2 linked regions of the Homo sapiens genome follow. The protein of the gene in region 1 purifies or fractionates together with the protein of each later gene. This does not show direct contact. Each region holds a gene or a part of one and is shown on either strand. Other genes may lie near its edges.

Region 1 (4,056 bases):
GCCTGGGGTGGGGCCTGAGACTGTACATTTCAAATATGCAACCAGGTGATGTCAATGCTGCTGGTTCCTCCTGGCCAGCACTTTGAGTCCTAAAGGACTAGACAATCCCCCAGTACAGATAACTCAACAGCATCATGGCCTCAATGCAAGCCCACTTGATGATGGGCTCCCCTTGGCCAAACCACTGGGGCTTCTTTGGTTGTAGCAGCAGGACAGTGGGCAGTGTGGTAGCTGTGCCCAGATCTAGGTGGGGCAACAAAGTGGAGGGCCCTGGGTGAAGGTGGATAGCAAGCTGATGACTCCCACTCTGGGTCAGTGTCAGCTCAAAGAGCTGGAAGAAATTCAATGCTGGTCCAGTCCAGCTGGATCCCATGGGCCCTAGAAACCTCCCATTCTGGCACAGCCAAAATGTACAGTGTCTTTCCCAAAGGCTCCCCTATTCGGCTCCCTCCGCCTGGGTTCTGATAGATTGTGATGAAGTGAGTAAGGGTAGGAAGCTAGCGTCTGGTCCATCAGAGAGCCTGGGTCTTGGTGCTGAACCTCTGCTGTGTGCCAAGCCCCTCCCAGTGTGCCACATGCCTCACCCCCAAAGCTTCCCCTCCCTATTTTCCTCAAATGACTTTTCACTGAACTTCAGTCTATATCCCTCTTTTCTTCCTCTCATTTCTCCCTGGACATGGCATCTGGCTCTCAGACCTCCGCAATTCACCTGTCCTGGCTCAAACACTGCCATCAGCTAAACTTGGGCTTTCCCCATGTTCTTTTGCACAGCACCCTGTCCTATCCTTCATCATTCTCCTGCACAGTATCTATGTGGGATGTTCTGTCCAAGACCAATATTAACTTCTGTGGAGCAAGATCCAGAGATTCTTTTGATTCCTTTGATATTTAGTCATTGCCTCCTTGGAACCCTTGACATTGAATGACTCCCTTCACACCTCTTTCTCCCACTGTAGATTTCACCTCCTTCTGGGGCCACCCCTAAGGCTAACAAGGTCCTAAGCACTTCTATTTCACATCATATTAAGCTGCAATTCATTGACTTCTACAGCTGCAATGATTATCTTGGGCTAATGGCTCCCAAATGTAGACTGCACATCCCACTTTACCTCCTGCAGCCTACAGGACAGCCCACTTTGGACATCCTGCTGATATCCAACCAAATATATTTAAGGTTAAGTTAATTATCTTCTCCTCCCAGCCCACACATTCCTCCCAATTTCATTTCTCTCACTGTCATAATATTCCTCTCACCAGTGATATTCAAAACCTGAGACTCATTGACAATATCTCCTACTTCTCCTGACTCAGTGTCTAACTTATCAAGTCCCTACAGGTTATTTCTTTAAAATATAACTTTGTGTTTTTAATTGCCATTACTACTGTACTTGTATTCCCGGTTTTTCTGCCTTTCATTCATTCCAACCTATGTGAGGAATGTGGACCCACGTTCTAAAGATTTTTTTCACCACATCCCTGCCCAGCTCTAGAATCTACAGTGACTGACTGTTTTGTCACCGTCTGGCACTGATTTTCTTGTGTGATAGCATCTCACTTCTCCATGGACACTAAACCACACCTCCTGGCGACATAATTCCTTTCTTATCTTCTCAGTGGACGTACTCACAGGTGTCCCATTGTTCTCCCTGCCTCAAAAGTCATCCCTTCTCATTGTCATCCATTCAGATCTTTTGATATTAAGATCACTGGAGATAGTATCAGTATAGATGGGTTCAGTATCTAGTTCTATCAAATTAATTACCAGTGTAGAGTTACAGCTTAGACATACAGGGTTATGTCTTTTAACCTCCAACCCTCAGTTTCAGCACTATACATTCATGGGATTAGATTATGTGGTTATGAAGGTTCTTTCTAGGCCAAACTATTTATAATTCCATGACTCAGAGTTTAATGAATCTTTCCCTTACTATTGTAACTCTACTCTGAACTCCTATTAAATTTTACTGTATTATTTATTGTTGTACATAAAGATATTTGTTTCCCTTATAAAAGTTTATAAGATCTTGAAGTCATGAAGCATGGCTTACAGCTCACTTGAAGCTCTCTCCAACCACCCTAATTGAACTACCCTGGTCCTTGTGGCCAGGACATAGAAACACACAGAGCAGACTTTGAATAGAAAGGCTGAGTCCTAGACCTAGCTCTGCTACCAATTTATTTTGCCACCTTTTATCCCTGGGCCTTCAACTTATCAACATTGGATGGAAAGATTGAGTAAGGTATCTTTCAAAACTGTTTTAAGTTTCACAATAAAATTTTATGCAGAATTCTAATGATTGTAAAAAGGATAAAGGGCAGCTGCTTTGCTGACACAGGAAGCAATGGAGACTTTGGAACCCTGCTAGTATTTCTCTTGCCTACAAAGAAGACACTGAGGAGCTACCAAGGAGCACAAAAAAAAAAAAAACGAAAACAAAAAATCTCTTAAGCTTCCACCAAACACGGTTTGAATACCATTGGCCCAGATGGTTTCTTTTGAGATTACTTTCTAAAGTCAGTTGTTCTAAGTAGTTCAGAAATCTTGATTTGGCTTAACCTATTCCTTCTCCTCAAATCTCTTTATGTGCTCCTAAATGTTTTTGATGTCCCATCATGTCATATGAGGGGACTACCTTGTTACCTAGACAGCTTGCCAGGAGGAGTGAAGGGATAGAGGGCATACCAGAGATATTGACAGGAGAGAGTAGAAAAGAAAGAAAAGAGAGAGAGAATATTGCCTGTCCATCACTGACCTGCAGATCCTGAGTTCCTGGAACCCTGATCCCTGGAGACTCCAACTGATTTCTCCAGGGCATTGCGCTGTGTTTATACCGTCTGGTACAGGTGGGTCAGGCCTGCACCAATCTCTATAATTGGCTGCAGGACATGAAGGAAGAAGAGCCTGGGCATTTCACAATGTCTTTGGTACAGCATGAATAATAAGATGGTGGGAACATTAAGGAGCATTTGTTGAAGGGGGAGAGAGTCATCCATAAAGCCTTGGCAGAAATAAGGTATGGGGCCCCTGCTCTGTACTGACTGTCGTTGACTATGTTATTAGTGGGTTTGCAGCCAGATAAACAGTGCTGGGGTCAGACATCTTTGGTGCCCCGTGGGGCTCCATCCTAGGCTTGAAGAGGTGGTGAATACAAGAGAAAGTATGTCTGGCAAGCCCAAGGACAGAACAAATTCTGATGCCGGAATCCAGGCTGTGGCCAGACAGCCAGAATAAGAGAAGGGGCTGATAGCACTGTGAGTGTGACTCTGTTTGGAAAGACGAGAAGGGAGTCTCTGCTTTTCAGTGGGTTTAATTAGTTGGTACCAGCTTGATGGGACAGAACATCTAGGGAAACCCAACTGCAAAGATATTGACCTCAGATTCACCCTGAGACTGAGCAGACATCATGTGCCATGGACTGCTAGGAAATATGATAGTGTGAGTAGAGCACAGAGGAAAGAACACTCAGGTCTCTAATTGACATTACTTGACTCAGTCCATCCATCCATCCATCCACCCGGCCACCCATCTGTCCATCTATCTACCCATCTGTCCATTCTTCCATCCATCCATCATCCATCCAACCATCCATCCACCCATGTGCCCATCCATCCACCCTTCTGTCCACCCTTTCATCCATCCATTCATCCATCCATCCATCCATCCATCCATCCATCCCTCCATTACAAGCGTGGAGAAGCTTAGGTGTAATGTTCTCTGGAAACTAACAACCTTATTATAATTCTCCCTCTTTGGTCATTTGCAAAGTTCCACCAAGGGCTTCTTGAGGAAGTGGGATAGGTGGGTCTAAGACTCAGATGCCTGCAGGATGAGAAATGAGAAAAGATGGGCAGAAATGGGACCAGATTTCTGCTTTCTAAGGCCAGTGATCATTCTTCTTCCACTCTCCCAATCTCTCACCCTTCTATGGGAAGGCTTAAAGCATGAGTTACTATGTCAGGCAACCAATGAGTGTTTACCCAGCATTTACACTGCTGTGTGACACAGACATTCAATACACAGTCCTTGTTGTTAAGTAGTTTCACAGTCTAGCTGAG
Region 2 (3,500 bases), on another chromosome or scaffold:
TCTGTATTGACTGCAGTCTTTTGCTTTCTGGTATTTGAGACTGTACACAAGTCTGCACTATAATTCAGATCCCATGTAGAGGTAGGATTGCCAGATGGTGGACTATGAACCCTGGTGAATCCTAACCATAAGGAAACATTCAGAGGATATCTCACAGAACAAGGTAGAGCAAAGACATTTTAAATAAAGTCCCAGGCTGGACGGGGTGGCTCCTGCCTTGTAATCCCAATGCTTTGAGAGGCCGAGGTGGAAGCGTTATTTGAGTCCACGAGTTTGAGACCAGTCTGGGCTACATAGTGAGACCCTGTCCTACAAAAAATAAGAGAAAGTCCATTTTGGTACGAGGAGGCTACTGTCACTTTATTAGTATAATTGTTTAATCTGTACTACTTTAAAACCAAGTTTATATTTTCACTTCTTTTTCAGGTAGGTGTAAAAGTTGGTGTCCGAACCAGGGGCTGTAATGGCCTTTCTTATACTCTAGAATATACAAAGACAAAAGGAGATTCTGATGAAGAAGTTATTCAAGATGGTGAGTTTTTAACAAACATTTTTTGGGCACATTGTTTTGCCTAAAATTATTAGCCTTGCACAGCACAAAGTAAAAAATAAGGATAGTAGCAGGAATTATGTAAATAATGCTCACTGTGTGTGTAGGTGTTGTTTGATGGAATTTCATGTATTAACTGATTTATACACAATGCTGAATGTGGGTGGTACCATATTATCCCTGTTTTTCTGATGAAGAAACTGAGGCACAGAGGGGTTAAATAGTTTAAGGTCATAATAAGTGGCCTAGTAAAATTCTTTCCAGAGACTGCTCTTAGTAACTAATTGATAAATTATTATATAAGCTTGTTTTAACTATGAAAGATCATCGTTGTGTCCAAAAAGTGAACCAGCCTTAAACCTCACAGTGAACCAACAGTTTTTGTGTAAGCAGTAGTTTTATATCTGTGTCAAATAAGTACGAGTTGAGCATTCCAATCCAAAAATCTGAAATCTGAAATGCTCCCAAATTCAAAACTTTAAAAGTGGGTGCTGACATGACACTCAGAGGAAATGCTCATTGGAGCTTTTTGGATTTGGGATGCTCAAGCAGTAAGTATAATGCAGATACAGTCATACATCACTTAACATTGGAGATACATTCTGAGAAATGTGACGTTAGACAAATATCCTGGGGTGTACTTAGACAAACCTAGACGGTCTGAGAAATGTGACATTGGACAAATATCCTGGGGTGTACTTACACAAACCTAGATGGTAGAGCCTACCATATGCCTCAGCTAGATAATATAACCTGTTGCTCCTAGGCTACAAACCTGTACTGCACGTGACTGTGCTGAATACTGTGCACAGTTCTGACACAATGGTAAGTATTTGTGTAAACGTACCTAAACAAAGAAAAAGTATAGTGAAATTTCTTTTATTATTATTATTATTATTATACTTTAAGTTTTAGGGTACATGTGCACAATGTGCAGCTTAGTTACATATGTATACATGTGCCATGCTGGTGTGCTGCACCCATTAACTCATCATTTAGCATTAGGTATATCTCCTAATGCTATCCCTCCCCCCTCCCCCCGCCCCACAACAGTCCCCAGAGTGTGATGTTCCCTTCCTGTGTCCATGTGTTCTCATTGTTCAATTCCCATCTATGAGTGAGAACATGTGGTGTTTGGTTTTTTGTCCTTGCGATAGTTTACTGAGAATGATGATTTCCAATTTCATCCATGTCCCTACAAAGGACATGAACTCATCATTTTTTATGGCTGCATAGTATTCCATGGTGTATATGTGCCACATTTTCTTAATCCAGTCTATCACTGTTGGACATTTGGGTTGGTTCCAAGTCTTTGCTATTGTGAATAGTGCCACAGTAAACATACGTGTGCATGTGTCTTTATAGCAGCATGATTTGTAGTCCTTTGGGTATATACCCAGTAATGGGATGGCTGGGTCAAATGGTATTTCTAGTTCTAGATCCCTGAGGAATCGCCACACTGACTTCCACAATGGTTGAACTAGTTTACAGTCCCACCACCAGTGTAAAAGTGTTCCTATTTCTCCACATCCTCTCCAGCACCTGTTGTTTCCTGACTTTTTAATGATTGCCATTCTAACTGGTGTGAGATGGTATCTCATTGTGGTTTTGATTTGCATTTCTCTGATGGCCAGTGATGACGAGCATTTTTTCATGTGTCTTTTGGCTGCATAAATGTCTTCTTTTGAGAAGTGTCTGTTCATGTCCTTTGCCCACTTTTTGATGGGGTTGTTTGTTTTTTTCTTGTAAATTTGTTTGAGTTCATTGTAGATTCTGGATATTAGCCCTTTGTCAGATGAGTAGGTTGTGAAAATTTTCTCCCATTTTGTAGGTTGCCTGTTCACTCTGATGGTAGTTTCTTTTGCTGTGCAGAAGCTCTTTAGTTTAATTAGATCCCATTTGTCAATTTTGGCTTCTGTTGCCATTGCTTTTGGTGTTTTAGACATGAAGTCCTTTCCCATGCCTATGTCCTGAATGGTAATGCCTAGGTTTTCTTCTAGGGTTTTTATGGTTTTAGGTCTAACGTTTAAGTCTTTAATCCATCTTGAATTAATTTTGGTATAAGGTGTAAGGAAGGGATCCACTTTCAGCTTTCTGCATATGGCTAGCCAGTTTTCCCAGCACCATTTATTAAATAGAGAATCCTTTCCCCATTGCTTGTTTTTGTCAGGTTTGTCAAAGATCAGATAGTTGTAGATATGCGGCGTTATTTCTGAGGGCTCTGTTCTGTTCCATTGATCTATATCTCTGTTTTGGTACCAGTACCATGCTGTTTTGGTTACTGTAGCCTTGTAGTATAGTTTGAAGTCAAGTAGCGTGATGCCTCCAGCTTTGTTCTTTTGGCTTAGGATTGACTTGGCGATGCGGGTTTTTTTTTTGGTTCCATATGAACTTTAAAGTAGTTTTTTCCAATTCTGTGAAGAAAGTCATTGGTAGCTTGATGGGGATGGCATTGAATCTATAAATTACCTTGGGCAGTATGGCCATTTTCACGATATTGATTCTTCCTACCCATGAGCATGGAATGTTCTTCCATTTGTTTGTATCCTTTTTTATTTCATTGAGCAGTGGTTTGTAGTTCTCCTTGAAGAGGTCCTTCACGTCCTTTTTAAGTTGGATTCCTAAGTATTTTATTCTCTTTGAAGCAATTGTGAATGGGAGTTCACTCATGATTTGACTCTCTGTTTGTCTGTTATTGGTGTATAAGAATGCTTGTGATTTTTGTGCATTGATTTTGTATCCTGAGACTTTGCTGAAGTTGCTTATCAGCTTAAGAAAATTTTGTAAAAGATCAAATGTGGTCGGGTGTGTTAACACAAGCCTGTTGTCCCAGCTACTCAGGAGACTGAGGCAGGAGGATTCCTTGAGTGTAGGAGTTCAAGAATGTAGTGCACTGGCCAGGCGTGGTGGCTCACCTGTGTAATCCCAGCACTTTGGGAGGCCGAGGTGG

Evidence for each region. Proteins that work in one complex are often made in the same cells at the same time.
Region 2: the proteins of IL1F10 (region 1) and ISCA1 purify together in Homo sapiens (affinity purification with mass spectrometry; one large-scale study listed by BioGRID and IntAct). This does not show direct contact.

Annotation. Positions count from the first base shown.
Region 1 is NC_000002.12:113,066,714-113,070,769, reverse strand, and holds the start of IL1F10 (interleukin-1 family member 10), read right to left. Parts: upstream 2,801-4,056; 5' UTR 2,754-2,800; intron 1-2,753. UniProt on the Homo sapiens protein: Cytokine with immunomodulatory activity. Alone, does not induce cytokine production, but reduces IL22 and IL17A production by T-cells in response to heat-killed Candida albicans. Reduces IL36G-induced production of IL8 by peripheral blood mononuclear cells.
Region 2 is NC_000009.12:86,269,039-86,272,538, reverse strand, and holds part of ISCA1 (iron-sulfur cluster assembly 1 homolog, mitochondrial precursor), read left to right. Parts: intron 1-426; coding exon 427-532; intron 533-3,500. UniProt on the Homo sapiens protein: Involved in the maturation of mitochondrial 4Fe-4S proteins functioning late in the iron-sulfur cluster assembly pathway. Probably involved in the binding of an intermediate of Fe/S cluster assembly.